2 separate regions of the Homo sapiens genome follow, and region 2 is linked to region 1. The links come from fine-mapping of genetic effects on gene expression. A gene starts in region 1. The other region holds a variant in brackets. All regions are shown on one strand. Distances are from middle to middle. Region 1 holds the start of FAM234B (family with sequence similarity 234 member B). Region 2 holds the start of GSG1 (germ cell associated 1).

Region 1 (16,135 bases):
AAATTTAGCATCGACATCAAATTCAATCTTGCTAGTCAGTCTCCACCTTGCAACAAACATATCAGGCTAAAAACAGCACCTTTGTCAAAGTGAAATCATTAATAAAACACTTCCCAGCAAAACAGTTTAAAGGAAATTCATTTTTATCATGCTATGTACTATCACAGGCAGGGAGGAAGAGAAGCATATGCTACAGGAATTTATAAAATCTGTAAGAAATTTATAAAAACAATTTGAAGCATTCTTTGAGAAAAAAGCTGCTGTCAGATTGGTCTGTTTAGCAAGATTACATGCTTCTAGTTAATGATGGCAAAAGTGGGCATTTCTGTCACACTGTCTTCCCTAAAACCAGGAAAACAAATACAGAAAAATAAAAATAGAACACAAAATAGGAAACAGCCACATTCCCAAACCACAATTTATGAACTAAATGCACTGAAACTTGTACTCAATTGAGAAAGCTCAGTAAGAGTAGGCAAATACATCTTGCAGATATATATTGCACATATATTGCAGATCTTCAGCAATGAGCAGAGTTCACAGAATTAATAATCATGACAACAATAAGATGATGACGATGATGACAACTGGAAGTGTATTGAGTGCCTACTGTCCCAGGCACTGATCCAAGCATTTTGCATGTGTTAATTCATTTAATCCTCACATCAATCTTATATGGTAGATATTATTATTATTATTATTATCCCCCATTTTATCAACAAGAAAAATAAAATTAAAGAGGTAAAATGACTAAGATCACACAACTAGCCAAAAGAAAAGCCAGGATTCAAACCCAGGCATCTGACTGCAGAGTCCATTTGTTGTTCTAACCAACAAGTTATACTACCTCCCTTGTTCCACAAATATAGCCAAACCAGTAATTGCTTGCTTGGAAAGACAAAGTCTGGGGTCACAGAAGCACCAATGAGCCCCATTCAACACCACAGAATCAAATCCAAGTAGGACCGAATGAGGAAAAGTACAAGCTGACATCTTCACAAAAAGCACACTGTCAGGACGGCAGGTTAGAAAAGTAACTGGGCATAATCACTCTGACTGGGCCCAGTCAGGATACAGAAGCCAAACAATAGTTCAAAGAGGACAAGTTTAACATAAAAAAAATTACTAAGCAATGACAGGAGAGTAAACATAAAGATGAGAAGAGAACTCTAAAAGGTCCCCTAGGACTGAGAGACAATATCCAAGGCAGGACAAACTTGATATTTAAAAGGGCTCAGACCCACTTTCACAAATCAGTCAACAAAGGTGAATTTGGAGTTCAGATGCAATAAATTGATAACTGGCAAAACAAAGTCAATGAAGGAAATGCCAAACCAGCAGCCTACAGTCCTGTGCAAAGCCTCCTCCTAGCCAGGATAGAGACATCCACACAGGAAGAGTGCTGGTGGGGAGCCAGCTGACTTAACAGGCCTGGATTACATTCTTGCTTCCAACGGCCCTAGATCACCCCTTTGGCAATAGCCAGGCTGTCAAACAACCGCCCCATTTAAATATAAGTAATAATCAGAAAGGAGCCATGTTTAGTACTCATTCCACAAGATACCACAAAGCTCTACAAATATTCAAGAAAGAAGTAACAACGAAACATAACAAACAATTAGCTGAAAAACAAATGCTGGACAAATCACACCACAAGATGGAAGAAATAATGAACATATACTTCCCCATGGAGTCTGAGAAATTTAGGAAAATCGTCTTCTCTGAAATAAGCACTCAGGAAAACAATGGAAAAAATAACAAACCAGTTTTAGAAAAGAAATCCTTATTGGAATCAGCTAAAGGAACAGATATTGCTGAAAACAGAGTCAGAGACATAAAAAGAATAGACTAGTGAAAATCAAGCAAAATGTAATGGAAATAACTACAGCTGGCAGTTCTGAACACTTATCCTACACTCTTCCAAGCCCTTTTAATGTCTTATCTCAGACCAGGGGTGCTGGCTCACGCCTGTAATCCCAGCACTTTGGGAGGCCAAGGCGAGCAGATCACTTGAGGTCAGGACTTCAAGACCAGCCCGGCCAACGTGGCGAGACCCCGTCTCTACTGAAAATACAAAAATTTGCCACGTGTGGTGGCAGGCGCCTGTAACCCCAGCTACTCAGGAGGCTGAGGCATTAAAATTGCTTGAACCTGGGAGGCGGAGGTTAGAGTGAGTCGAGACCATGCCACTGCACTCCAGCCTGGGCGACAGAACAAGACTTTGTCTCAAAAAAAAATTCTTATCTCAGTAAATCTTCATAACAACTATGTGAGGTAGACACATTACTGTCTTCACTTTCAAGATGAGGAAGCTGAGGCTTGGAAGTTTAAGTAATTAGCGGATGTGGTTTGGCTCTGTGTCCCCACCCAAATCTCAACTTGAATTGTACTTCCATAATTCCCATGTGTTGTGGGAGGGACCCAGTGGGAGATAACTGAATCATGGGGGCAGTTTCTTCCGTACTGTTCTCATGGTAGTGAATAAGTCTCACGAGATCTGATGGTTTTACAAGGGGAACCCTGTTTCGCTTGGTTCTCATTCTCTCTTGCCGCCACCATGTAAGATGTGCCTTTTACCTTCCACCATGATTGTGAGGCCTCCCTAGGCACACAGAACTGTAAGACCATTAAACCTCTTTCTTTTATAAATTGCCTCGTCTCAAGTATGTCTTTATCAGCAGTGTGAAAACAGACTAATACATTGGCCCACAGATAAACAGCAAGTGATAGGTAACAATTCAAAACCAGTCTGGCTTCAAAGTCTGTACGGGCTACATATGATCCCGTGGAAAAAAAATCAAGGCTTTAAAAAGACTAGAAACAACGTGATAGATACTGACAACAAAGGTGAGCCAATATATGCATGACCGAAGAGGATAACAGAAAAGAGGATAACAGAAAAGAGGATAACAGAAAACAGAAAAGAACCAAAAGCAGTATTTTAAAGAGTTGCCAAAAAAAACTTCCTACAATAAAGACCTAAAACTGCAGAATAATGAGTACACAGAGTCCCAAGAAAAACTGATTCAGAAGAATCAATACTGAAATATATCCTAGTAAAGGCACAGGACTTCAAGGACAAAGAAGGAATCCTATAAGCAGCCAGGCCAAAGGAAAAAGAATCAAGTCACTAATGACAGGAACAAAAATCAGGCAAAGATTTCTCCATAGTAACATACACTATTAAAAGATAGCGGAGCAATATCTAAAAAGTCCTCAGAGAAAGAACATGCAATTTGATGTCCAAGCATTCTGACCCAGCCATGACATCACCGAAATATAAAGACAAGCACACAAGCGCTCTGAGTTATCATATTCCTATGCTTTCTTTACATCACAGAAGACTAGGGGCCAGTTCTTGGCCAGCCTTTTGAGAGGAATAAATACTTTTATACTAATTTTTTTTTCAGATACTGCAAAAACAAACCTCCGCTTAAGGATTACAGACTGCAAGTTTTGATTAGAGAAGTCTTTAATAATATTTTTTCTATCTATTTACAGAAAGACAATAAGAGAGCGTGAAGTAAAAGACGTCCACCAACTTGCCTTAAAAGAAGTCCACCAACTTGCCTTAAAAGAAGTCCACCAACTTGCCTTAAGTCCTACTCAGGCTGAGGAGCCAGGCGTCAAATCCAGCTTCCAAGCTTAGGGCACTTAGCACTCACTCGCTTCCTTGCTACTTTCAGCCACCACCCAAATTTTTAATGAATGAAAGGTTTTCAAAGAATAAGGGAGAGGGCACTGATTTCATAACAAATCATTATAAATGCGCTTTCCACAGCTATTGCTTTTCCTCTTAGGAAGACTGAAGATGCTGCTTAAATATAATAGGATTTCCAAAATGGTAGAGAGGAAAACACAAATAGGAAAGTGATGCAACTATACCATACCCAAACGTTTTCAGGAAATATACTAAAACATACACTATTCTATAACATATACTATACTATAGTATACACTATACTGTGCATATACTATACAATACACTCTACTGCAACTAAAGGTAAATAATTCATATCATGGGTTAGTTTACCCAAGGGCATATAAAGACTAAGTTACACAAACAAAATAAATCATAAAAAATCATTTTGCTCTGATATTCCCTCCAGTGTTTGACCTTCAAACTTTAAAATGGCCTAAGAAAAAAAATATATATATACTTAGGAGATAAGCTGCCCTACAGGCTTTATGAATGTCATATTGGCCTTCTGCTACTAATTAACCTCATTTTATGCATGTGAGCCAAACATCTTTCCTTCTTGAGCTTAGCGAAACTGCTCTTTCATAACAAGACTGCTGAGATCTGTCAATAGCTCACTATTACATCAAGCCTTCCTTCAGGTATCACATTCATAAATGAGCACACTGCTGATGACAACAGCTAACACTTACTGACTAATTAACATATGTCAGAGGTTACTAGACCTCCTAAGTACATCCATCTCCTTTACTATTTCAGATAACCCTAGGAGGTAAATATGTAGTAGAATGTGTGGCATAGAGTGAATGTTCCATAATAATGTTATTGTTACAGATGAGGAAACTAAAGCTTAAAGAGATTAAGTAACTAATTAGGTAAAGACTGGATTTGAACCCGAGCCTGTCTCATGCTCTCAGCCACCACTCCAACCTGACTTCCTCACACATGAAAACAGTGGGGATGTTGGGGCCAGACGCAGTGGCTCATGCCTGTAATCCCAGCACTTTGGGAGGCCAAGGCAGGCGATCACCTGAGGTCGGGAGTTCCAGACCAGCCTGACCAACATGGAGAAACCCTGTCTCTACTAAAAATACAAAATTAGCTGGGCATTGTGGTGCATGCCTGTAATCCCAGCTACTCGGGAGGTTGAGGCAGGAGAATTGCTTGAACCCAGGAGGCGGAGGTTGCGGTGAGCCGAGATCACACAATTGCACTCCAGCCTGGGCAAGAAGAGCAAAACTCCGTCTCAAAAAAACAAACAAACAAACAAAAAAACAAACAAAGAAAACAGTGGGGATGTTAACTACAGGAACATAACACAGTAGCCCAAACAGGACAGCAGTCTCAGGACCCCAATTACAGGGGAGCCAAAAAGAGCTATATAAAAACAACTTGTACCTAATGCAAAAACTAAAAATAGTATTTTGGGTGGAGGGAAGAAGAAAGGGCAAGAAGGAGACAAGGAAAAACGCAAGTGAACATTTTCTCCCATCCAAGTACTAACCAGGCCCGACCCTGCTTAGCTTCCGAGATCAGACGAGATCGGGCGCGTTCAGGGTGGTATGGCCGTAGACGCAAGTGAACATTTTCTTAAAACCCACATCACATGAAAGAACACATGCCTACTATATCTGGGCCTAAAAAAGCATCAAGCATACCTCAGGGCTCAGGGCCAAGCTGCCTGCCAAACAGGCCCATGGACTGGACTATGGGAACCCCAACCAGTTCCTACAACTAATACTCCAGGGAGTAATAACACCACAGCCTTGGGGCATAAGAACACAAAAGACCTCAAGAGTTGCTAAAGCAAGATTTTCATGCATTCTCATTCTTAGAGAATAACAATGACCTACACTGAAATTTTAAAAAAGGACTCTAAAAGAAAAAAAAAAAAGAAATAAAGCTAAATGTCTGACATCTTATTACCCCTCTGGGAGGACATCATTCTACACTAAGGATATACAAAGTAAAAAAGTAAAAAATTAATCCTGCAGGTAAAGGGCCACGTCTCTCCTTTAATTCCAGTGTTATGCACACATTCCAAGGCAGATGCTATCAGTGTTCCTTCCAATGTTCCAATGAGCCCATATTAAAAAAAATAATAATCTGTCTGAGGTCATGAAGTCTGGGGACAGAAACGCAAATTAATATCCAACCTAGCGTCATCCAAATGGCAAGGTTCGCTTCAGGGTAGCATACTGGAAGCTCCTTGAGAACAAGGACCCTGTAATCCCCCTGCAAGCTCAAACTAGCTATCCAACCAAAACCCAAATAGCCCTCTCTAGAGATAGCTATGAAAGCAACTGCTTTTCCCTCTAATACAAATTATCAGCAAATAAATGTTTATAGCTTAATGCTTAAAACTTACCTAGGTAGAGCCATCAATTTTTCTAAAGCCTAATGTTTAAAATTTACTTGGGTGGAATAAATATACTTTTATTTAAATATCAACTTTCTAACAGTACAATCCTACTCTGGAGGTTTAGGAGGAAAAAAAAAAAAAAAGGAAAAAAAACTTGGAGCTGCTGCCCGAAGTACTGAATCAGCTCTGGAAGTTGTCATCACCCCTAATGCTGCCTTAAAGAAGATTCCATACATTATCTTCAACTTATAGGTGCCAAATCATTTCCCATGCTTAATCTCGGCAGCTGGAGACTGACCAAGTGGAATCAAAAGCTCAGGATTTAGAGTGAAAAGACCCCTGACGTTCAAGGCCGAGCTTTCCCAATACTTGTGAGACCTTGGACAATTCACTTAGCCAAATAACTCTCATTTTCTCTTCTGTAAACTAGGAAGGGACGTAAATACCTGTCCCACCTGCCTCATGGATGCGTCGTTGCTGCCGTTAGGTGGAGGGGATGATCCACAGAGGGCCACTCGCCGTCCCGCCGCCCCCGCCCAGGTCCAGCCAAGACAGAAGGCGCCGGAGTCCCTGCGGTGCTGGGTCCGCGGCGCTCGGGAAGGATGCTCCTCTCGCCAGCCTCCCCTCGGGACAGCGGCGACCGGCGTTCTGACATTCCCCGCCGTAACACCTGCTCGGCGCCCTCTCCCCGCGCGTCTCCGGGTTCGCCCCGCGCCCGAGACCCCTGCCCCGCTGGGCGCCCCTCTCGCCCTCTGGTGGCACAGAGACCCCAGCCCCAAGGGACTGCACCCTCCTCGGCACCGGGCGCCTGCAGCTGAGTCTGGGTTGAGGCCAGGGCCCGACCGGCCTCGCCCCCAGAGCCTCGCCTCCCCTTATTCCAACACCGGCGGGGACTGGGTGGTCGCAAGCATGCGACTCCTTACCCGGCAGCTTGAGCGCCCTGGACAGCACGGTCGCCATGGCTGAGGCCCCGGTGCGCGTGCGCGCGCCCGCGTTCTGCCGGGAAGTGTAGTTCCGAGCGGCGGTGCGTGGGGCTGGGACCGGGAAAGGTGGGACCCGCTTGCTGGGGACAGAGCTGAGGGAGGCCAAGCCAGAGTACACGCTCCGCAGGCTTTTCTCCCACCCTACCTATGCAGGTCACCTCACCACTCTGAGTCTCACTTGCCTCGTCAGTGAAATGGGGAGAAAATACCCCGTAAGCTTGCAGTGAAAATGATTCGAAGGAGATATTTAAGGAGGTGTGGATTGTGCAATGTGCGTGGGCTTTGAAATCAGGCAGACTGGATTTGAATCCTGCCTGAATCACTTACTAGCTGGGCCATCTTGGGCAAGTCCCTTGGGGCGACTGAGCTGCCGCTGCTTTTTTTTAATTAAAGACATACTACCTACTTCACAAGCTTGCAATGAGAATTAAATGATACGACCTGTTTAAAACACACAGCACACAGTAGGCACCTAGTAAGAGTGTTTCTATTACGCTTCTTAGGTAGAAGTTGAAGTTTCCTGGAGCTCGAACCCTCATTTATTGCTCCCAGTTCTTTACAGGTGTCTACTCAGCACCCTACGCTGCAGCTTCTAGTTGAAGGGTGTAGAAGGAGGATCCGACTGTGTACATACATCCAATAGATGCAGCATCTCCAGCTCCTCAGATTTCAATGCTTGACCTTTAAGGCATCTGCACGCTCCCCGTAATCACCCCAGCTTTGCCTGAATGATTTTTGCGGAGAGCCCGATGCCCAGGAATTCCTCCTTCCTTGGCTCCCTGAGCTTTCCCCCACTTTGTCTTCCTTGTCCCTCTGGAAATCTCCTTCATCCCTCCATAACTTTTTTCCATTTTAACATAGGAACTGCAGCTTAGAATAGTATTTCTCAAATTTAATGTACTTTCTTTTCAATTAAAGAAAAAAATTCAAAGCAGCTGCCAAATGAATCAGGATCCTTACCTTTTACATAGAGAATACCTGTGTGTTCCTCTCTAGCTACTGAGTGGAATGTGAATACTTTTGCTGCCCAAACACCCACTGAGGTCACTGTGGAAAATGCAAACACCCAGGCCCTCTCTGACTTCTGAACTTGGCTTGCCTCAGGACCAGGCACAGTGGTGTAGAAGGAAGAACTGACTTGCTTCTTTCCCACACGCAAGTGATCAGCATTTTAGTGCAGGAATGCTAATACTGTGTTATCTTAGAACTGGAACAGATCCTAGAGGCTATCTAGTCCCACTCTCCTTGTTTTGTTTAAGAGAAAGCTGAGAAATAGAAAGGTAATGTAACTTCTGAGTGTCACAACAAAAGCTCCAAGATACATCTCATTTGCAGGCTGCCTAATTCCCGTGAGAAACTGCAGACAGGACTATCCTGTGGGAGTAATCTGAGAGTCTCCAGCAATCAGTCTCACCTCCTTTCTTCCCTTGGAAAAAAAAAATGTCATTGTCTCTGATAGAGCACAGGCTCTGGAGCCAGGAGCCAGGCCTCCCGAGATCAAATCCTGACTCTATCATTTCCTAGATGCCAGGCAGAGGGTTAGTTGCTTAATTTCTCCCCACCTCAATTTTCTCATCTGCAAAATGGGGACAAAACAGTTCCTAGTTTATAGAGTTCTCCTGAGAATTAAATATATATGTAGAAAGCACTTACAACAGTGCCTGGCACTTAGTGTTTTCTAAGTATTCACTCTTCTTTTATCGATAATTTCTTAATGTTTTAACAATTTAAAATTTGTAACTTAATAACAAATAATACATTTCATAGTAATTTAATGGTTTAGTAATGTATTTATTTATTAATTCTTTCAACATTCTACAATACCCAAAATTTCTACTGCTTGCCACTTCTCTGGAGGCATGATTAAAAAACATATTTTACATCTATGTAGGTCATCTAAAAGGAGCAACACTACAAGTCACAATGAGCCAGTAGTAGCTTGCCTGATATCAGTTTAACTAAATGGAACGCATTCCTGAAATATGAAGACTGAGAAAAATAACCTGTGAATGTGACAGGGATGTAGAAAAATGTTCATTTTAGTTGCAGAACAAGAACTTGAGTTTCTAGGAGAAAGTTTGGGTGGAAAGGAATAGCCAGGTCACACAGGATAGGAAGAAAGAAGAAAAATCTGTCTCCTTTTCTTAGTGAAAAGGTATATTCCGGGAGAGTACCTTCTTCTGTGATATAAATAAAATAAAGATGTATAAAGTTTTATTTAAAAACTTTGTCTCAGAACCAGGCACAGTGGCTTGTGCCTGCAATCCCAGCACTTTGAGAGGCTGAGGTGGGAGGATTACTGGAGTTGAGGAGTTGGAAGCTGCAGTGAACTGTGATTGAACCACTGTACTCCAACCTGGGCAACAGTATGAGACCCCTGTCTCAAAAACAAAACAAAACAAAAAAAAACTTTGCTTCAAACTGTGTAGTTACCCAAAGTGCCCATGTGCATGTACACACTTACATGTGTACATATAAACATGTGTCAGTGTACATACATCCAATAGATGCAGCATCTCCGGCTCCTCAGATTTCAATGCTTGACCTTTAAGGCATCTGCACACTCCCCATAATCACCCCAGCTTTGCCCGAATGATTTTTGCAGGGAGGCCGATGCCCAGGAATTCCTCCTTCCTTGGCTTCCTGAGCTTTCCTCCACTTTGTCTTCCTTGTCCCTCTAGAAATCTCTTTCATCCCTCCACAACTTTTTTCCATTTTAACATAGGAACTGCAGCTTAGAATAGTATTTCTCAAATTTAATGTACTTTCTTTTCAATTAAAGAAAAAAATTCAAAGCAGCTGCCAAATGAATCAGGATCCTTACCTTTTACATGGAGAATACCTGTGAGTTCCTTTCTAGCTACCTAGTGGAATGTGAATACCTTTGTTGTCCAAACACCCACTGAGGTCACTGTGGAAAATGCAAACACCCAGGCCCTCTCTGACTTCTGAACTTGGCTTGCCTTCCTGACAAGTACAAGAGTGACCGGGGCGGGATGCCTATGAACAGCCTAACCTGCCTGGTGGCTGTGCCTGCTTGAAGAAATTACTTTTCTGAAAAATCACAACTGAAGTCAGAAAATCACCTTCTATTTTTCCTACATTGATCTACAGTGAGAGTGTTCTTCCCCAACCTTCTCAAGTTCCCATAACTCATAGAGGGAACCCATATTGCTGGTTATTACCTTTGTAATACTCCAAGTACTGCTCAGAATCTCTAAGTGTCCTGCATGGGCTTATGATCAAATCTGACCATCTAATGCTTGCCTTTCCCTGGACAGTGTGGCCACTTCTGCTGGTCCTGACTATCCCCACTAGGTTTCACCACCTCTTCTTGGAACCAATGCCACTGTATCTACCAGCGGCCGCCTCCCTTCCTCCTTGGTTCCACTGCGCTGCCAGGCCCCTCAAAAACTGCCTCCTCTCAAAAACTGCTGCCTCTTCCTGTATCTCTCACTAAATGCCACCTCATATTTTAGTGCTCCTAAAATGTCAAAGCTGTGAGGGGCAAAGGAAACCAGGGAAGACTGCCTTTCTCTCCTTTTCATATTACACTTTATTAGGAAATTGCCAATGCTATGCTGCTACTCCTTCAGGTTGAATGCAGTATTTTCATTAGACAGAGCTTCTATTTTTACTTAGCAGGTCAACCAGAGCAAGATAATTGCTGTAACAAACAACCTCAAGATTCCAATGATTTTAGAGTGTAAAAATTTATTTCTGCCTATGTCAGAGTCAAGGTGGGGGTGCAAGTAGACTGCACTGGGGCTCTATTCCTCCCAGCCATTCAGGGACCCAGGCCCTTCTGTCTCCAGCTGCTTCATCCTTAGGGCCTCGGAGGCCTCCACTGGATCGTTTGCATCCCAGATCATGCAGGAAGTGTTATGGGCCAGGCCTGGAGCTGGTGTATGTGAATTCTGCCCACATTTATTAGGCTAGAATTCAGACAGAGAGTATGTGTGCCAGGAAGGTATGAGCCCAGGAAGAAAAGGAGACAAGTTTGGGGAGCATCTAGCCAGTGTCTGCGACACTGGTCACCCCATGCCTTTGTAAATTACAGACCTGAGTTCTTGAGTTCTTGATGGTAGGAAAGGGTTCAGGCGCCGCTCTCCTTAGGATTGCCTTTCTCCTGTAGGGACTAAGGCTTTGTTCCTGAGCTGAGTTTCTTGTAATGACTTATGGGTCTAAGCTGAAGCTCTCCCAGGAGGCTCCCCTCACTCCCTCTGCAGAGAGATTTCTGGAAGCCATTCCTACATCTATCAGCAGAGGATGGACAAATCTGAACTCCACTGACTTATCTGAAGCTGAGGGTAGTACCCTCTGCTACACTGGTGCCAAAAAGGGTCAGGAAGCAGTAATTAGTATGAGATTCGAAAAGCAAAAAGAAAATGTCATAGCAAATAGCAGTGAGGGCAGTGAGATTGAGAAAAGCGAAAGAGGTGCACAGCAGAGGACATTTAGGAGTTAAATGCAGATGTCAAGGAGCCTGTGAAATCAGTCTTGCGTGAGGATCAGGAAGTTTGAAACGCATGTGTACCAGTGGCATATTCACTTCTCTTCACAGAGAACTGAACTCTGCCCAGGAGTTGCATGGCTTGTCATGAAGACAAACAGGTTTATGTTCCCAGAATGTCCTTTGATAAAACACAAGGGCTCATCTCACTCAGATCATACAGACTTTTAGCCTATAAAACTTTCTAGAGTCTAGACTATAAAATGCTCTGTGGGCCCTGAAATTTAAACAAAGGCTTCTTCTTAACAAGCCTCTGGCTGGAACATATGTTTGAGAACAGTGTAATTAAGGACAGACACACCCAGGCCAAATGAGCTCTTGGTCCTCCCATCCCTCATTCTGGCATGTTCATGTCAACCGAAGGACCTGTAGTAGCAGTGTAGATGGTAACAGCCCCCATTCGCTGAGCACTCATCACCTATAAAAGAAGACAGTGTTTTGGAGTCTTGCCAGTCTTGATCAGCCCCTTCACTGCCTTCCAAAAGAAAATGCAATGGGCCAAGCATATTGTGACTTGGGGAGTTTTCCTGAAGATTCAAGGGGCCAGGGAAAGGGGTCAAGGCACATAGCATTTCCCCCCCCCCGCCGCCCCCCCAAAAAGCTCTGTTAGATGCATCTCTTCTCCCAGGTCTCTGCTGTTGGCCGCATCACTTCATCTTCCCCACCACTAAGACCTCTTGGGTCAGTTCCACTCTCAGGCTTTCTCCTCCTCCCTTATTTCCTGCCTTCTGCGGCCGTTAGCTTCAACAGGAGGCTATAGTCTCACCTCCATCCTATGGGCAGAACCTTTCCATGGAAGGTAAACTGAGATGGATAAAGCCATTTGCCCAAAGTGACACAATTCCCAAGGACTTGAAGAAGGATTTGAATGCAGGTTTTTCTGTCTTTTAATCACAAGCAGTGACGTCAGATACATGGCATGTGTGCTCCAATTTGTCTTTTCTTCTTCCAGGGCACATGTCACTCACCACACTCTGACAGTGGGCCCAGACATAGCTTCAGAATCCCTCACTCCGCTGTCCAGGGAGCCACTACCTATCAATTGGATTCAGCTCAAAAATTGAAAACTATTTGTAATCCCTGCCTCACTTATGGCATTGTAACCAAACTATAAACTCTTTTATAAAAGTACTTGATTCATGACAGATTTTAGTGCTGAATGTAGCTGATATTTGGCCAACATTTGTTCTCATTTGTTGGGAGTGCTAGCTGATTAGTCAGACATGTTCTGGTTAGTCAGGACCTATGCAGTACTGTGTTTTTCTTTCCTTTTTTTTTTTTTTATATAACCAAGATTTTTTTTTTTTTGAGACAAGGTCTTGTTCTGTAGTGTTTTTCATATTTAGATTACATCCCTGTTGAGACTTCTCAGTTCTGCATGTCTAGCTCACTGGTTAAGTCCTAAGTAATCCTCTAAAAGTCAGTAAATCAGGTTACCACTGGCTACGTGACTGAAGTTCTAGAATACTTCATTTTTCTGCACATCTTAAAGTATGTATTATAGGCAGCTGTGTGTTGTAATATGAATAGATATACCATATTAAATTTGAATATCTGTCTAATATTAAATTTGAATATGTGTATTATATTAAAACTCCCATACTAAATATTGAGTTCTTAAAGAATGGAAGTGAAATTTTGTATCTTTTTAGCCCTACATAATGCATAGCATATGGCCCCAGATATGTATTGGATAAATGTGAATGTAAGAATAAATAGCCATCACATTATGAGAAAAGAATAAAATCAATTTAGAAAAAAAAAAGGGGGAGGACCTTATTTATTTTATTTATTTATTTATTTTGAGACAAGGTCTGGCTCTATTGCCCAGGCTGGAGTGTGGTGGCACAATCTCAGCTCACTGCAACCTCTGCTTCCCAGGCTCTAGCAATCCTTCCCACTTCAGCCTCCTGAGTGCTGGGACTATAGGTATGCACCACCACACCCGGCTAATTTTTGTGTTTTTTGTAGAGATGGGGGTTTTGCCATGTTGCCCATGGTGGTCTTGAACTTGTGAGCTCAAGTGATCTGCCCGCCTTGGCCTCCCAAAGTGCTAGGATTACAAGTGTTAGCCACCTTGCCCAGCTGGACTTTATAATTAATAAAACTTTTTTCCTACGCTCATATTCCCTGCTTTGGATAATGCAAATATTCTCATGTTCTTTCACCACTCTTCTCCATACCAATGTCATAGTCCAAGCACCCAGGCTGCATGACTTGGGGAAACGCCGTCCCTCTGCATGTGAATCTCAGCAGTGTGCACATGCTCCACATATGCCTCATGGCTGTCACTTCTCCCCATCCCTCCTGTTAGGTGGACTCAGCATTTCTGGTAATTACCTCTGCCCATTTCATCTCTGCACATCTGTAAAGAATTATAAGGCCGGGTGCGGTGGCTCACGCCTGTAATCCCAGCACTTTGGGAGGCTGAGGCGGGCAGATTACCTGAGGTCAGGAGTTCAAGACCAGCCTGGCCAACATGGTGAAACCCCGTCTCTACTAAAAATACAAAATTAGCCAGGCATGGTGGCACACACCTGTAATCCCAGATACTCGGGAGGCTGAAGCAGGAGCATCACTTGAACCCAAGAAGAAGAAGTTGCCGTGAGCCCAGATCGCCCCATTGCACTCCATCCTGGGCAAAAAGAGTGAAACTCCATCTCAAAACAAAACAAAACAAAAAAAGGAATGGTAACACAAAATAGGAAAAGTTGACACTTAGTATCAAGTTACTGCTCCTGGAGTCCACTGACTACAGCCTTCTCATGAGGCCATTCCTAGCCAATGCTTTCAAGCAGCTGGATATAAAAGAGTAAACAAATCCTGTAAGCTCCTTCAAAGGCCTTGCAATCTAGAGGAGAGACAGACATTAAGCAAGCAATAAATAAATATATCATTACAAAGTGTGGCAAGCACAATGAAGGAAAAGAACCTAGTACTGTGAGAAAGAATCACGGAGACATCATAGATTAGTTTGGGGAGTGAGGAAATGAATAACTCACTGAGAAACTGATACTTAAGCTGACACCTGAAGAATGGGTAGAAGTTGTTCACGTAAAGGCTGAAGAACAGGACGTGTAAAGGTCGAGTCAGAAAAAAGCTTGATTCAGCCGGGCACGGTGGCTCACGCCTGTAATCCCAGCACTTTGGAAGGCCGAAGCGGGTGGATCACTTGAGATCAGGAGTTCGAGACCAGCCTGGCCAACATAGTGAAACCCTGTGCCTACTAAAAATACAAAAAATTAGCCAGGCGTGGTGGCACATGCCTGTAATCCCAGCTACTCGGGAGGCTAAGGCGCAAGAATTGCTTGAACCTGGGAGGCGGAGGTTGCAGTGAGCCAAGACTCCACCACTGCACTCCAGCCTGGGTGACAGAGACTCCATCTCAAAAAAAAAAAAGAAAGAAAGACAAAAGCTTCGTCCTATGGAGGAAACCAGTGTGCCTGAGAATAGTTTCAATGTGAGAAGCAAGAGGCAGACAGGAACCTGATCATGCAGGTGCCTTGACACTGAAGGACTTTAATTAGCAAAGTTGATGTGATCCAACTGGCTGCTATGCAGGGAATAAACTGGAGGAGAACAAGAATGGAGAGAGGAAGACCAGATAGTTACAAGCAAAAGGTCCTGGTGGTGGATTCAGTTACTCATGCTTTGTCTCCCAGACACAACGTGTGCACAAATTCTCACTTTTCACCTGCTTTCCTGTTCTGGCAAGAAAGAAAATATGGGTACTGTTTATTTTTCTCTTATTATACAAACTATTAAGACTAACAGAACTCCTGTTTCTACTCCTGCGAGCCTGACTGCAAATGAGACAGTCACCCATACCCACCCTGACACATTCCTGCCACCCCAACAGCTTGTCTTCCTGCAGCCTCCATCAGCTTTCACCTGGGGACTGAACCAAATCATATAGACACTGAGGTTCCCTGGCTCTCTTCTCCCCTGAGAGATGCCAGGGCTATCTAGAACCATTGCGTTAGGTGACAGCCCAATACATAATATATGGAAATAAACTCCCTCTAAATTGAGCTATCATGAAGGGAAGGTAAACAGCCATCAGTTGAGATATACTATATAAAAGTAAATTATCAGTCAGCTGTGGTGGCTGACACCTATAATCCCAGCACTCTGAGAGGCTGAGATGGGAGGATCACTTGAGGCCAGAAGTTCAAGACCAGCCTGGAAAACATAGGGAGATTTCCCACTCTACAAAAAATTTAAAAATTAGCTGGGCGTGGTAGTACACACCTGTAGCCCCAGGCTGAGGCAGGAGAATTGATTGAGCCCAGGAGGTCAAGGCTGCAGTGAGCCATGATTGCACCACTGCACTCCAGCCTGGGCAATAGAGCAAGAACCTGTCTCAAAATAAATAATAAATAAATAGGCCAGGCACGATGGCTCACGCCTATAATCCCAGAACTTTGGGAGGCCGAGGCAGGTGGATCATTTGAGGTCAGGAGTTGGATACCAGCCTGGCCAACGTGGTGAAACCCTGTCTCTACTAAAAATACAAAAATTAACTGGGCATGATGGTGGCATCTGTAATCCCAGCTACTTGGGAGGCTGAGATAGGA
Region 2 (16,135 bases), 60 kb before region 1:
GAATGAACCAGGTGGAACTAGAAAAAACAGCGTTCCACTTCCCTATATGAAAAATAAGAGAGTAAACAAGAAATCAACAGCAATGAACACCTGGAAGCCACAGTGGGACCTGAGCCTATAGTCCCAAAAGGATCTAATGTCAGATGTTCCGGATGTATTCACATCTACCCCTAGAAAACAGTTGAGAACTGTATAGGGGGTCCCTAGATGCTTTTAATATTGTCTTGACATTGACATTTTTGAAGAATACAAATCCAACTTCTAAAAATGGAGTATTTACTCATTTTGAATTTGTATGATGATTTCTTGCGTTTAGACTCAGGTTATACAGTCACTGCCTGAATACTACATAAGTACATTGTGCCCTTCTCAGGAGACACACAATGGCCATCTGCCTCCTCAAGCTGAAGTCAATTTTAATTACCTGGTCAAGCTGTTATTCGATTTCTTGACTGTGTAAAGTGTTATCTGAGTTCCCTATTGTAGGGCTACTTTTTCCCTTACAACTAATAAGCAATCTGTGGGGAGACAGTTTAAGACCATGCAACTGGCCTGTTCCCCATTAAAATGTTCCTCTGTATTTAGCATCCATTGATGATCGTGTCTAAATTCATATTTAATAGAATAGGTGCAAAATTACGATCTTCCAACTTCAGCACACCCTCCATATTCACCAGTCAGCTCCTTGCTTTGTACAGTAAGCAAGAGTCTTCTCTTCTCATTCATTTATGTATATATTTATTTGCCTATCTATTTATCATCCATATGGACTCACAAAGTCCTGTTTTTTTCCAGTGGCTTATAATTTAATACTGTGTTTAATTATTTTGGTGCTTAAATTGTACCAGATTTAGCCAGTAGGAATCCCTTCAGGGGGCTGGTGTGTCCCTGTGAAATGTCCCCATCATTTTTTCATAGGCATTTCTTTACTTTTTGGCATATCAAGATGTTCCAGGTTCATCTTCTACCTGCCCTATCCAGGCTCTGGAATTGGACATTTATTTGAGGAGCTCTAGTTCCTCTTAGTATTAGAGACCAAGATTTGAGTGCTAGTTTTTCATTGCTACTGGGGAATCTTTCTTTCTAAGTCCTTTTAGTAAATAAAACTAGAAAAAAAATACTCATTTATTTACACATACGTATGCAAATATAATACGCATATATACATAGACAAATATACATGCATACGTGTTTATGTGTACATGCATGTATGTACATGTGTGTATTTCATATATAAATACAAGAAATCATGACTTCATACTGATGCCCCTAATTCCAATCGAACCCATAGGTTCCTTCTTGCCTTCCTCCATTCCATATGTTGATGTTCCTTTCCCATAATGAGAACTCTGGCTCTCAACAGCATTTATTCATGTGCCCAATCCCACAATACATCCAAAATAGTTCCACAATTGTTTCACAACCTACCCCAAGATGAATAAGGTATATACACTAAAAATAGCTCAGCAGACCAAGAATGAGTAATTAAATAGAATCAATAATTTAAAAAAACTGACAACCACAAAAAGCCCTGAACCAGATGGATTCATAGCCAAATTCTACCAGACATACAAAGAAGAGCTGGTACCAATCCTACTGAGACTATTCCAAAATATCAAGGAGGGGGGACTCCCCACTAGCTCATTCTACAAAACCAGTATCATCCTGATACCCAAATCTGACAAAGACACAACAAAAAAAGAAAACTATAGACCAATATCCCTGATTAACATGGATACAAAAATCCTTGAAAAAATACTAGCAAACTGAATCCAGCAGTACATCAAAAAGTTAATTCATCACAATCAAGTGGGCTTTATTCCTGGGATGCAAGGATGGCTCAACATACACAAATCAGTAAATGCGATACACCACATAAACATACTTAAAAACAAAAAACATATGATATGATCATCTCGATAGATTCAGAAAAAGCATTTGATAAAATCCAGCATCCTTCATGATAAAAACCTTCAACAAACTAGGCATCAAAGGAACGTACCTCAAAATAATAACAGCCACTTAAAACAAACCCACAGCCAACATAATACTGAATGGGAAACCCCTAAGAATGGGAACAAGACAAGAATATCCACTCTCACCACTCATATTCAACACATTACCCAAAGTCAGAGCAATCAGGCAAGAGAAAGAAATAAAAGGCATCCAACTAGGAAAAGAAGTTGTCAAACTATCTCTTTGCTGATAATATGAAACTATACCTAGAAAACCTTAAAGATTCTACCAAAAAACTCCTAGTCTTGGTAAACTTCTGCAAAGCCTTAGGATATAAAATCAATGCACAGGCTGGGCGTGGTGACTCATGCCTGTAATCCCAACACTTTGGGAGGCTCAGGTGGGCAGATCACTTGAGGTCAGGAGTTCAAGACCAGCCTCGCCAACATGGTGAAACCCCGTATCTACTAAAAATACAAAAATGAGCCGGGCATGGTGGTGCATGCTTGTAATCCCAGCTACCTGCAGGAGGCTAAGGCAGGAGAATAGCTTGAACCCAGGAGGCAGAGGCTGCAGTGAGCTGAGATCATGCCACTGCACTCCAGCCTGGGTGACAGAGCGAGACTCCGTCTCAAAAAAAAAAAAAAAAATCAACGCACAAAAATCAGTAACATTTCTATACACTGATAACATTCAAGTTGAGAACCAAATCAAGAAATCAAAAACACAATCCCATTTACAATAGCCATGCACACACACACACACACACACACACACACACAAACCTAGGAATACATCCAACCAAGGAGGTGAAAGATCTCTACAAAGAGAATTATAGAACACTGCTAAAATAAATTATAGACAACATAAACAAATGGGAAAGCATGCAGTGCTCATGGATTGGAATAATCAATATCATTAAAATCACCATACTGCCTAAAGCAGACTACAGATTCAATTCCCTATCAAACTACAACATTAATTTTTTCGGAATTAGAAAAAAACTGTTTCAAACTTCACATGGAATTAAAAAGGGCCCAAATAGCCAAGGCAATCCTAAGCAAAAAGAATAAAGCCAGAGACATCATACTTCCCAACTTCAAACTATACTGCAAGGCTACAGTAACCAAAACAGCATGGTACCTGGTACAAAACATGAACACATAGCAATGGAACAGAATAGAGACCCCTGAAACCAAGGTACATACCTACGACCAACTGATCTTCAACAAAGTCAACAAAATTAAACAATGGGGAAAGAATAACCTATTCAGTAAGTGGTGCTGGGAAACTGGCTAGCCATATGCGGAAGAACGAAACCAGACCCTATTTCTCACCATATACAAAAATTAACTCAAGATGGATTAAAGACTTAAATGTAAGACCTCGAGCTATAAAAATCCTAGAAAACCTAGGAAGTACTCTTCTAGACATTGGTCTAGGCAAAGAATTCATGGCTAAGTCCTCAAAATCAAACGCCACAGAAACAAAAATTGACAGTTGGGACCTAACTAAACTAAAAAGCTTCTGCACAGCAAAAGCAACTATCAACAGAGTAAACAGACAACCTACTTAAGGGGAGAAAATATTTGCAAACTATGCATCTGACAAACACCTAATATCCAGAATCTATAAGGAACTGAAACAAATCAACAAGAAAAAAAAACAAATAATTCCATTAAAAAGTGGGCAAAAGCATGAACAGACACTTCTAAAAGAAAACATACAAGCCACCAACCAACATATGAAAAAATTATCAAAATCACTAATTATCAGAGAGATGCAAATCAAAATCACAATGAGATACCATCTCACACCAATCAGAATGGCTATTACCAAAAAATCAAACAATAACAGATGTTAGCAAGGTTGTAGAGAAAAGAGAACGCCTATACACTGTTGCTGGGAATGCAAATTAGTTCAGCCCCTGTGGAAGGCAGTTTGGAAATTTCTCAAAGAACTAAAATTAGAAATACTATTCAACCCAGCAATCTCATTACTGGGTACACACTCAAAGGAAAATAAATCATTCTATCAAAAAGACACCTGCACTTGTATGTTTTTTGGGGTTTTGTATTATTTTGTTTTTTTTAAGAGAGTCTTGCTCTGATACACAGGCTGGAATGTAGTGGCATGATCATAGCTCACTGCAGCCTCAAACTCTTGGGCTCAAGCCATCCTCCCTCAGCTTCTCATATAGCTGGGATTACAGGCACGGGCCACCACGCCCAGCTGACTTGAGGGGTTTGTTTATTTTTTTCAGAGAGAGGGTCTCACTTTTCTGCCCAGGCTGGTTTTGAACTCTTGGCTTCAAGCAATCCTCCTGCCTCAGCCTCCCAAAGTGCTAGGATTACAGGTGTGAGCCATCTCACTCAGCCTGTACTTGTGTGTTTATCACAGCACTATTCACAATAGCAAACATACAGAATCAACCCAGCTGCCCATCAATGGTGGGTTAGATTCCTAAAATGTGGTACATATACACCCTGGAATACTATTAATACACAGCCATAAACAAGAAGGAAATCATGTCCTTTGCAGCAACATGGATGCAGGTGGAGGCCATTATTCTAAGCAAGTTAATGCAGAAACAGAAAACCAAATACAGCATATTTATAAGTGGGAGCTAAACATTGGGTACACATGGACACAAAAATGGGAACAATAAACACTGGGAATTCTAAAGGGGGTTAGGGAGAGAGGGCAGCAGGTATTGAAAAACTATCTATCGGATGCCATGTTCACTTATGTTCACTACTTGAGTGATGAAATCATTAGCAGCCCAAACCTCAGCATCACACAGTATACTCATGTAACAAGCCTGCACATGTACCCACTGAATCTAAAATAAAATAAATTTTTTACAGTTATAAATAAATAAAAAGAGTTCAGGAGTTGTTTGCAATTCTCCCCCACTCAACTTTACCCAAGACTGACCAGTAGATAGTCAAGCACTGTATTCAAGAGTTCCTTGGATTTGTTCTTTCTTTTGTTTTTTCCCTTTCTGCGTGGTTATAGTATTTATCTGAAATACCACTGAGGTCACTTGTTTCCATTTGCTTTTGGTTTCAGGCTTTTCTTTTCCTTCTCAACTTGTTATAATTTTATTTTCAAACATGTGGAACATTAGCATGCTCCCAAAAGTCAAAACTATATCATAAAAACTTCTCAGAGAAGTGTCACTCCTTCCAGAATCATTTCCATTCCCCACCCCCAGTAAACAACCAACTTTATTGTTTTCTGGTTTATCCTTCCTGAACTTCGTTTGGTAACAATAAGCAGATAGATGTACATTTTGTTTCCCCTCTTTTCTTTTTTACACAAAAGATAGTATACTATATATCCTCTTATGTACTTAGCATTCCATATCAGTTCATAGAAATCTCCCTTGTTTGCTTTGTTTTTTATAGCTGCATAGTACCTCATTGTGTGTATGAACCATAATTAATTCCACCAATTCTTATTTAGGTAGTTTCCATATTTTACAATTACAAATATGTTGTAATGAATAGCTTCATGCCTATTGTTGGAGGTGTATCTTCAGGGTAAATTTCTAGAAGTAGGATTTCTGGGTGATGGGATGCACATGCAGTTGTGTTAGATATTGCCAAATTCACCAAAGGGGTACACCATTTGGGATTCCCACTAGCAATGAGTGAGAGCGTCTGTTCCCCACAGCATCATCAACAGATTGCACTGTCAAACTTTATAATTTTGTCAGTCTGGTGGATGAGAAGTGATATTTCATTCTAGTTTTAAATTGCATTATGTTTACTATATGTGAAGTTGAACATTTTTTCATATATTTAGGGTCATTCATATGTCTCTCTCTCTCTCTCTCTCTTTTTTTTTTTTTTTTCTTTTTTTGAGGCAGTCTTGCGCTGTCACCCAGCATCGCCCAGGCTGGAGTTCAGTGGCAGGATCATGGCTCACTGCAGCCTCAACTTCCCGGGCTCAAGCAATCCTCCCACCTCGGTCTCCCAAGTAGCTGGGACTACAAGCGCTCACAACCTCGCCCAGCTAATTTTTGTACTTTTCGTAGCAATAAGGTTTCACTGTGTTGCCCAGGCTGGTCTTGAACTCCTGGGCTCAAGTTATCCTCCTGCCTCGGCCTCCTGACGTGCTGGGATTAAGCATCCGGCCATAATCTCATTTTTAAAATTCAGATCTCTAGTCCATCTAGAGTTTATTCTTGTATATGATTTTTAAATAAATATAATTTATATTTTTCTAAATGGCTATCTAGTTTATCCCAACAACATTTCTTAAAAAAATCATCTGTGCCCCAGTGATTACAGATATCACCTTTGTCCTATACTGGAAGTCTATACATAGCTGTGTTTATCTCTAGACTTTCTGTTCTCTTCCATTGGCCTGTTTGTCTAGTCATGCACCAGTACCACATTGTTTTTTTTTGGTTTTTTTGTTTTTTTTAATATACTTTAAGTTCTAGCGTACATGTGCACAACGTGCGGGTTTGTTACATATGTATACATGTGCCATGTTGTTTTAATCATAGAGGCTTTGTAGTATGCTTTATATCAATTAGGGCTAGCACCACCTCAGAGCTCTTCCTTTTCAGGGTTTTCCTAGCTAGTCTTGTGTATTTTTTTCCCATATAAACTTTAATATCAACTTGTGTTGGTCTTTTAAAATACTCATGGTTATTTGTATTAAATTTATAAATTAACTTATAACGGACATCTTGATCAATTTAAGATGTGCCAAAAATAAGGCATGTTGTTCCATTGGGGAAGTTATTGGCACTTCGAGATCCGATGTTCTCTCTTAGATACTTCCTTAGGTAGTTTAGGTCATTAAATAAAATAATAAATATTTCTTGAGCAGCTACTATGCCCTTGGCACTATATTAAGCACGATAGAAGTAAAAAACCAGATTCTGTCCTCAAGCAGCTTAGAATTTCACGAGAGAAACAGACTAACACACCAAAAGCAAAGCAGGCATGCTGTATGAGCAAAGAGGAAATGGGGAGTAAGGAGGGCTAGAGCCACAAGGTAGTGAGACTGGAATCATGTGCCCTGAGGTTGTGTAAGATTTAGGCAGGGCAGCAAGGAGAAGGAAGGGATCCCAGTGAGGGGAACCCTGGCAAAAGCTCAGAGGAGGACTGAGTGTGACAGGTTTCACAGGGCAGAGGGCCCCATCCAGACTGTTAGCTGGAATCCTGGATGAGGCCCTCTTCCAGTCTCCGAGAGTTATGCCTCCATATTAACAGTCCCCAAACACTAATTATGTATTCATTAAAATGATGTTAGTGAATGTTTGCTGGGTTTCCAGATACTAGCCCTTTAGAATGGTAATTTCTGTACATTGTTACCTTTTCAGGGAATGGCCTTGAGTTGTGCCATCCAATACAGTAGCTACTTGCCATGTGTGGCTGTGGAGCCCTTATGATATGGATAGTGCAACTGAGCAACTGAATTTCTAATTTTATGTAATTTGAATTCACTAAATTTTAATTTTAAAATGAAAGTAGTATAAAATATTTTTCATTAAACCCAACTTTATTGTGTGGGGAGGGCTACATTTTAAACATAGTATTGTATAACATATGATTGCTGTATCACAGTATGTGTGTCCAATTTACTTTTTTTAATGTGGCTACCAGAAAATTTTAAATGACATATGCTGCCCACATTGCATTTTGCTTTGACAGCACTGGTCTAGAGTCTCACAACTCAGTGTGGTCTGGCTGGACTCACGTGAGAGCCATCCCAGACTCTGCACTTGACTAAGTCAGGATCTGCACTTGACTAAGTTCCCCAGGTGAATCTTATGCACAATAAGATAAGCACTGATCTGGACGACCTCAGAAGACATCCAGCCACTGGTAGGTACCCAGCATGACCCCCCCCAATCCTTATGGGAGGAGGCTGAGGGAGCAACAGGGAGACCCCTGACTGCCGTTGTGACATCACAGAATAAACCCCACGGGTCACCCAACCCCGCCCTGGCTGGTGTCTGGCCCTCAGGACATCCTCTCCAATCCACCACACACCACCTTACCCCTCTGCTGGCAAGAGGGGACCTGATTCATCCTCACGCTAAACACTCATTCTACCCAACTGATTGAGACAGAACAGAAGATAAACTGAAACTTCTCTGCCTTCCCGCTGCAAGAGTGAATGAGCGATCCCTCTCAACTGACTCAAAATGTTTGCCTCACCCAGGAGGTAGGTACAGTGATTTTGAAATCTCATGAACATCTCATACACATATCTTTACTGCTGGATTTGTAACACAGGTTACACTAACTCATCAATTTCATGTATTTCACATGGTCACAGTAAAGAGCTTGGAAATGCACTATAGGGTTCTACAAAATGGAATGAAAATGTGTCACTCAGCCCAGTTTTCATAGATAAAACTGGTATGTCCATACCTTGGCCTATTACCTTTTCATCTTCCTTCATTAAAACTTCCATTTCTTCTTCCCTTGTCTCATCATCTTCCTTCTCCTTTCTGTTCCCAGGGCTCCCTATGCCTCTCCTTTTTTCCTTTCATCTGCATTATTCCCGTTGCCAAAATCTGGAGCCTGGTAAAGGCCCAGTAGCGGTGGCAACAATAGAGCTGTGTGTCACCCCAGTGAGCTGAAAGAGCAGACATCAAGCTCTATGCCAGAGAACAGTGGGGCATCCCCAAGGTCCTGCTGGAAGGCAGCTCTGATCTGGAACTGGGAAGGACAACACACAGTCAAGCTCTTTCTCGTCTCAGAGAATCCAGCAGAATCTTCAGGGATCCTTCCAGACCAGGAAGACTCTCACACTCTGCAGAGAAGTTGCGGCTTGTTTAGCATTTGACCTACATTCAGAAACGACCAGCCTCCCAACTTTCAGCTCTAAGGATTACTTAAAAAAACAAATGGTGTTCATTCTCAGATATCTTGCCTTTCTCAGGAGAGAAAAATGAAGCTTGCAATTAGCCAGCAAACTAGCACATACACAAACACACACACACGTACATACACTCCAACACAGGGAGCAATGTGGTATGTTGTTGACCAGCTGGAAGTTAGGATCTCAAAGGAAAGAACAGGATAACTTAAGAGGCACTTCTGGGACTGCAGAGCTGAGCTGGTGGTTCTGAAGAGCCATCGGAGTGTGGGTTCAGGCAGCTTCCCTAATTCAGAAGCAGCCCCAAGTGAATAGATGACAAAGAAGTGGATGTGAACATGACAGAAAAAGCCAGTCATGGCTTAGAATAAATTTTATTATTGTTCTTTATCAGTGGTTTTCCAGGAGAGACACAGAGGGAATATGGGAGCGTCTGGTTGCTAATATGTACCTGAGAAGTATAAAGTACACTTAATCCATTGCCTCAATCTGCAGGAGGTCCCATAAATCTGGCCTGCAATCTGTACATTTTGTTAAAGGTGACTGTGCCTTGGCTTTTACTGAGTGGCAGCCTGGTGATGAGTCAGGCGAACAGTCCTCAAAGATTGCCAGTGTTGACTTTACCATTTACTAGCTTTGTGGCCTTGAGCAAGTCAAACCCTCCGAATCGGAACCCTCACTTGTAGAATGGGGATGCCACGTCCCTTTCAGGCTGGTTGTGAGGATTAAGGAAGATGTCTGAAGGGTCTAGCAAGGTGTCTGCTGGTAGCACAGGTGCACTTCCCCTTCGTTTCTGCTTAGAGGCACTCTTCTTCTACCTGTTTTCGATTTTCACAGAACTAAGAAGGACAACTCTTTGCCCTCATTTACCCCTGAGGGTAAATTTAACCCTCTGGGAGGTTAAGTAACTTGGCCAAAATCCTCAGTGCAGTCGTGCATTGGGTCGTAAATAGAACTCGGATCTGCTGAGGGGTCTGGGTGGTGAAGTCCCGCCCTGGGGTCTTCCCAATGAGACGCAGACATCCCCTTCCCTTAGAACGGGAGCCTGGGACCCATAGCTTTACCGGGCAGAGGCAGGGAAATGCCTGACTTTGGACTCCAGCAGCTCGACACATCCCGAGCCCTGGCCCACCGGCCTGGGTGTAAGGAATCCCTCCGACTACCCAGTCTCTCCGCCCTCCCGCGCAGCCTCGCCAGGCGGCAGAGGGGACGCGCCTCAGGTGGCCTAGCGCCCCGGCCCAGCTCCGGGACACATGTGGCCCCGCCCTCCGCGGCTCGCCGGGTCCCTGGCCTGCCCTGGCAGTCCCTGCTCTCTGGGAGGGCCCCCGGGACACCGTTCTCAACCGACGGAGGAAGACCCAGAGGAAGAAACAGCCCGGGTACCCCCGCCCGACCCGGTCAGGAAGCCATGGGTGGTTGGCGGCCGCGGGGCG[G/A]GGCCTCGCAAACAATGCCAAACACGGCCGGCCTGTCGCCGCGGCAACGCGCCCCGCTGCTAGGCGACCGGGCGCCGTAGTAAACGGGAGAGACGGCGCGTTACTCATCAGGGTGGGAGGGCGCGCTCGGAAGTGGAGATGGCGCGGCCCAGGCACCCCCGAGAGGCCCCACCCGTTACGCCCCCGCCCCGCCCCGCGGTCCCCAAGCGCCCCCGGCCCCAGCCGGCCTGCTGGCGCCGTCACCCGCGCGTGAGCGATTGCCCCACAGGATGTGCAGATGTGGCTGCCCCTCTGATTCACTCCAGCTGCTTGGGGCCTGGAAGAAAGGCGGCTTCCTCTCCTGGAAATGACTGCATTAGCAAAAGTCCTCAAACAATTCCATTAAAAGGCGGAAAGGGAAAGACGAGAACGAGGCCCCGATACGCTTTTCCAGGGTCCTTCCCACTGAATTGAAGTGTTCCCAAAACTCGGGACCTACGTTAGGAAGACTAGAGTCATTTGATTGTGCGACCATTTGAGGTGATGTGGCCCCTTAAACGTGGTTACAGCTGAGAATAAATCCCGGAGCTAAGTGCCCTACAGTGATGTAGTCATTTTGAACACTAAGCACGGGCATTTTGGTGGCATTACTCTTCCCTTCCGGGCTGGGAAACAAATGTGAAAATGTCCCGTGTGAAGACCATCTTTGTCCTCATCAGTGAAAGAGTATAAGGTCAGGCACTGATGTAAACATTGCAGTTAGAGCAGCAAAAGCTCAGAAGTTTGGAGATACATTATCCAAAATGGCTCTAATCAGTAGGGGTCCACCCAGCTTGGAAAAGGACATAACATTTCCAATCTGTCACTGGTTTTTGAGCAATCTGTCTCCTGATCTCTGTGCACTAAAGATAATATACTATTTCATGAGATCATCACTGTTTTCTGCGCTTTGCTCATTTAAAAGCAGGAATGTTTCCACAGGTGAGAGGAAATGGATTGGCAGAGAATCTGTTTGATGAAACTCTGGGTGCATCTGCCTGGAAAGGCTTAGGGTGTGCCTGTGGACCCAGGGCTTCCTTTGTAGCTTCTCGCTGCTCTTACATACGTGAATCCAGAAGCGTCCTGTTTCCTTTAGCAACAGAAGGCTGTTTGGACACACTTCTTTATTCACATCTTCATTCAGGATTTCTAATTGTATCCATAAACCTTTTTGCATTACAAATCTCATTCATTCATTCATTCATTCATTCATTCATTCATAGATGTTAAAACACTGCTAGGCTCTGAGGATCAACAATGAATAAAACATAGCTGCTACTATATCAAGCAACTTAAAGTCAAATGAGCATGACAGACAAGTAAGCCATGTGATGAGTTACACGAGAGAGGCACATGCTAGGACATGCAGAAGCAAAGAACAGGGCCAGGGGCATGCATGGTCATCAGACCGGCGATAGCCGAAACATTTACAACCCACTCCAGCCTTTGTCTACTGAGTAACAGAAAGGAGCTAATGGCGCGTGGGTCAGAAATCTAGCTCCTGGGAGGACAGAGATACTCCTGCCAGGGAGGGCAAACAAACCTTTCCAGGAAGATGCCAGTATGGATGACATGAAGAAAAAACAAAAAAAAAAAAAAAAAACAAAAAAAAACACCGGATCCCTTAGCCCCAGGCCTTGGCATTAGAGAAGTGGTGTGGTATATAACCTGCTCTCCGGCTCAGCATTCACGCTTGTCATTTAATCACTTCTAACCTGCAGTGAACTCACAAAACAATAAATTGCATTCCCATTTACGAAGTATGTGTAGGTGCCCCAACACCACTGTTTTCTCTTGATGCACAGCCTAGTAAATGTGGTTCTGTCCAGTACAGGAAACAGTGACTGAGGACCTCAGCAAATATGGGTTAGTCCCCACTGTTGGCCTTGTGGTGTCATAAATGGTGAAGTGCATATATATTCCTGCGGAGGTCATCTTGGAATAGTCACAGTCCAACATGCCAGAGCTAAATACTGTTTTTAGGTGTGGAATCTTCGTGTCTGTGCTGAGTCATGAGCTTCTGAGCCGAACCTAATTATATTTATGTCACATTGACTAGCAATTACTTCTTCTGTTCTAAGAGAGGAAAAGGAAGAAAAAAATATTAACATGCCCAAATTACAATGAAAGGAAGTGAGTGGGATGCTGGGCTCTGATGTTTGTGGCCAGGCAGAGAAACTCATGTTTTGTCAAAAAGAGGAAATTAGACGTTGTGGCCCAGGGTCCTTGGGGAGGGGGAATCAAGACTGGTCACATTCAGCAGCCAGGCAGCCAAGTACACACACAAAATGCACAGCCTCCTAAGGGGTGGACCCAGGCTTTGTGGAGGCCTAAAATAATATAATTTCGGAGGCCCTCTTTAAGAAAAAGAGTACACAATTACAAGTGTAAATTAGGTAACAAGGTTTTAGAAGAGGTGGAGTGAGTAGGGGACATGGAAGCTGAAGTTTCATTAGCTTCACTCTAAATCCACCCCTGAGCCTCCTCATATAACACACTTAAGAGTCTGCCACTCCCATCCCCATTTCCCTGGAGAAGGCGAACTTCAGGCTATTAAGGCACAGGGGGTGCAGTTTATGAGCAGAGGCAATAAAAACCAAAGACATCAGGCCATGCCAAACAGTGACTCAAGCGGGCTATGAGAAGTGTCTGCAAGTATTTGAAGGGTGTAAGCACAGAGAGGGGAAAATAATTGTTCACTGTTCTGGGGTGGAAAGGGACTGAAGATACAATCAAGAAAAATGTGCACAAAACTCATCAGGAAACATTGGCTAACTGTATTTTCTGATACCGTGGAGTTGTATTTCCCATGGGAAGTATTTGAGGATCTACTGAGTCACTGAAGCTGGAACTGGCCGCCCAAAAAAAAAAAAAAAAAAAAAAAAAAAAAAAAAAAATGGGCTACATGAAACAATCCTACAAGACTCCTATAGGGAGTGGCTGGATGCCCCAAAGTTCAGCCTGAGCCCTGAATTCCATAGAGCTGACACACGGCATTCTGTAGATTAGCAGGCAGGGAGGATGCCAAATTAAAAATAAATAAATAAAAGGATCCTATGGGGAGGAGCAGCCACTTCCACCCACATTTTGCCGACTGGTGGGGGAAGCACGTGACGGAAGCGGAAACGACGAGGAGATAGCGCCACCCAGCGTTGTGATGAAACTACTAGCCAGGAAACCAACCGCCAATGCAACCGTAAAAAAAAAAAAAACAAAGAACACAAAATTCCTGCTTCTCCTTCCAAAGGAGAGTGAGTTCTGTCACAACAAATAAAGGGTTGTTTGGGCGATGCAGAAAATGTACCTGCACATGGCACATGTTTATCAAATTTGCTTGTTAACATCAGTCTGAGGAGAGCAGACATTACAGGTGACAAAAGCAGGATCCGAAGCAACTCATTTGGCTAGAACGTGGACTAATTCAAACAATTAAGTTCAGAAGAACCTGCCTTTGATTCCCTAAACGAACTGCACAAATATAGAATGGGAAAAACATGACCTCATGGCTAGTCTGGAAGAGGGGGAGGAACGGCCGGGGGCGGATACAGAGGGTTTTATTAAATGTAAGCCCAAAATGAGTTGAACAGGTGCCATTTTACATGAATTCCCTGGGTATATATTAAGAACTTTCTAAAATTACCAATTCCTGGGCCTCACCCAGAACTACTATGAAATCTCAGGGTGGGTCCAGGAATCGGCATATTTTCCAAACTTCCAAAGATTGTTCTGAACTCAGTTCATCAGAACTGAGAACGACTGCTCTAAAATGAAAGTGAGACCTTTGAGGAAGTTACATTTCAGACAAATGCAGTAGTTATAATGGAATACAGAAAGTGTTGTGAGAAGGCCGGGTGCAGTGGCTCACGCCTGTAATCCCAGCACTTTGGGAGGCCAAGGTGGGAGGATTGCTTGAGCCCAGGAGTTCGAGACCAGCCTGGACAACATAGTGAGACCCTGTCTCTATTAAAATTAAAAAAAAAAAATAAGTGTTGCAAGATATAGTGTGACAAGGATCATGAGGAGGGAGCTGTCTGTCCTAGGGAGAAAAGAAACATTTTCAAAGAGTGGATGACTTTTTAGACTAATTTCGTTGAAAGGCAGGCAATTCACCAGGTAAAAAGAGATTGAAGGCAGTCCAGGCAGAAGGAAGAGCATCAGCAAAGGCTTGGAGGATGAAAGTCCATGCAGGGTTTAGGGACTCACAAACAGCGGCAGAATCTCTTTCAACATTGGTGTCCCAATTAATTTGCACTTTTTTTTTTTAAAGATGGAGTCTCGTTCTGTGGCCCAGGTTGGAGTGCAGTGGCACAATCTCGGCTCACTGCAACCTCCATCTCCCAGGTTCAAGAGATTCTCCTGCTCAGCCTCCCAAGTAGTTGGGATTACAGGTGCCTGCCACAATGCCTGGCTAATTTTTTTGTATTTTTAAGTAGAGACAGGGTGTCACTATGTTGACCAAGCTGGTCTCGAACTCCTGACCTCAAGTGATCCACCTGCCTCAGCCTCCCAAAGTGCTGGGATTGCAGGCATGAACCATCGCGCCCAGCTATTTGTACAATTTTGAGGAGAGAAAGAACAACTTGTACTTCTGGCTGACTGGTGGCAAGAACATATGCAAACGACCCCTTACTGGTTTCTTAGATTACTTTTTCAGCATTTTAGAAACTCTTTTTTGAAATATAAAATATTGTCATTCCTTTGCCTGAAGGTTGGGAGAGGAATGGTAAATAGCCATGGCATTCCAGATCCTGGAATTCATTTATCTCCAATCCTATTCTATCTGCATCTTTGCCACATCCCCAGCCAACATTCTCACTCAGCATTCCATGTGTAGAGGGAGATACTTAATAGTACTTATTCTTTTTTTTTTTTTTTTTTTTGAGACAGAGTCTCACTCTGTCACCCAGGCTGGAGTGCAGTGGCGCAGTCTCGGCTCACTGCAAGCTCTGCCTTCCAGGTTCACACCATTCTCCTGCCTCAGCCTCCCGAGTAGCTGGGACTACAGGCACCCGCCACCAGGCCCGGCTAATTTTTTTGTGTTTTTAGTAGAGACGGGATTTCAGCATGTTAGCCAGGATGGTCTCAATCTCCTGACCTTGTGATCCGCCCACCTAGGCCTCCCAAAGTGCTGGGATTACAGGCGTGATCCACCACGCCCGGCAATAGTACTTATTCTAATGTTCTAACTGGAAGGTGGAGACCACCCATGGAACAAGGAAGCTATTTCCTGTTCATGGCTCCATGAGGCCCCGACATTGCAGAGAATAGAGTTTCTTCAAAGGGATAGGAAACCCTACTCGAGGGAAGGTAAACTTCTGCAGTGATGGTGACCTGCCATATCTTCGTCTGTCATAAATCCAAGCCCAATCCATTCACACCAGTTACCTAGGGAATGGCAGGCAGTGGAAACTAAACCATCATTTACTTTTTAAAGAAAATTTCCTCTGCAAATTGCAGGTCCTTGCTTCTTTGTGCTTAATCCCAGATCCCCATTGGCAAGCTCTCTGGTGTAATCTCCCAGAACAGCTGGGCCCTGATTGCCTTGTCAATTATTAAATGCCCGTGTTCCCTGTAAGGCAGCATTTAATCATGAGGCACTCCAAAGAATATGAGATAGAAGGGGAGGGGTAGGAGGAGAGGGAGGAGGGTAGGAAGACAGTTTGCATTCTTGCAACATTAAACCAAAGGGACTTGGAGTGCAGATGGCATCCTTCGGTTCTTCCAGACAAGCTGCAAGACGCTGACCATGGCCAAGGTAACCGGCTTCCCCTCCTATTGCTCAAAGGATGCAGTCTACAGCTATTTTGTACCTGGCTCTTTTAAGAAGTGCACCTGCCTCATCGATCTGTTGTCCTTCCTAGCCTATGCTAATTCTG

What was found.
Region 2: its variant is fine-mapped to the expression of FAM234B in monocytes after R848 (Quach 2016, PIP 0.95).

The regions. Positions count from the first base shown.
Region 1 is chr12:13,035,291-13,051,425 of GRCh38, reverse strand. It overlaps FAM234B (family with sequence similarity 234 member B), which reads right to left and starts at 7,045. Exons shown (of 13, transcript NM_020853.2): 1 at 6,986-7,045. The coding sequence starts at 7,022.
Region 2 is chr12:13,095,478-13,111,612 of GRCh38, reverse strand. GSG1 (germ cell associated 1) reads left to right here and starts at 7,946. Exons shown (of 7, transcript NM_001080555.4): 1 at 7,946-8,148. The coding sequence starts at 8,101. LOC105369666 (a long non-coding RNA gene) reads right to left here and starts at 10,183. Exons shown (of 2, transcript XR_931369.3): 1 at 9,873-10,183; 2 at 9,167-9,626. RefSeq lists silencers at 10,008-10,057, 10,338-10,567. The variant G/A (reference allele first, on the strand shown) is at 10,242.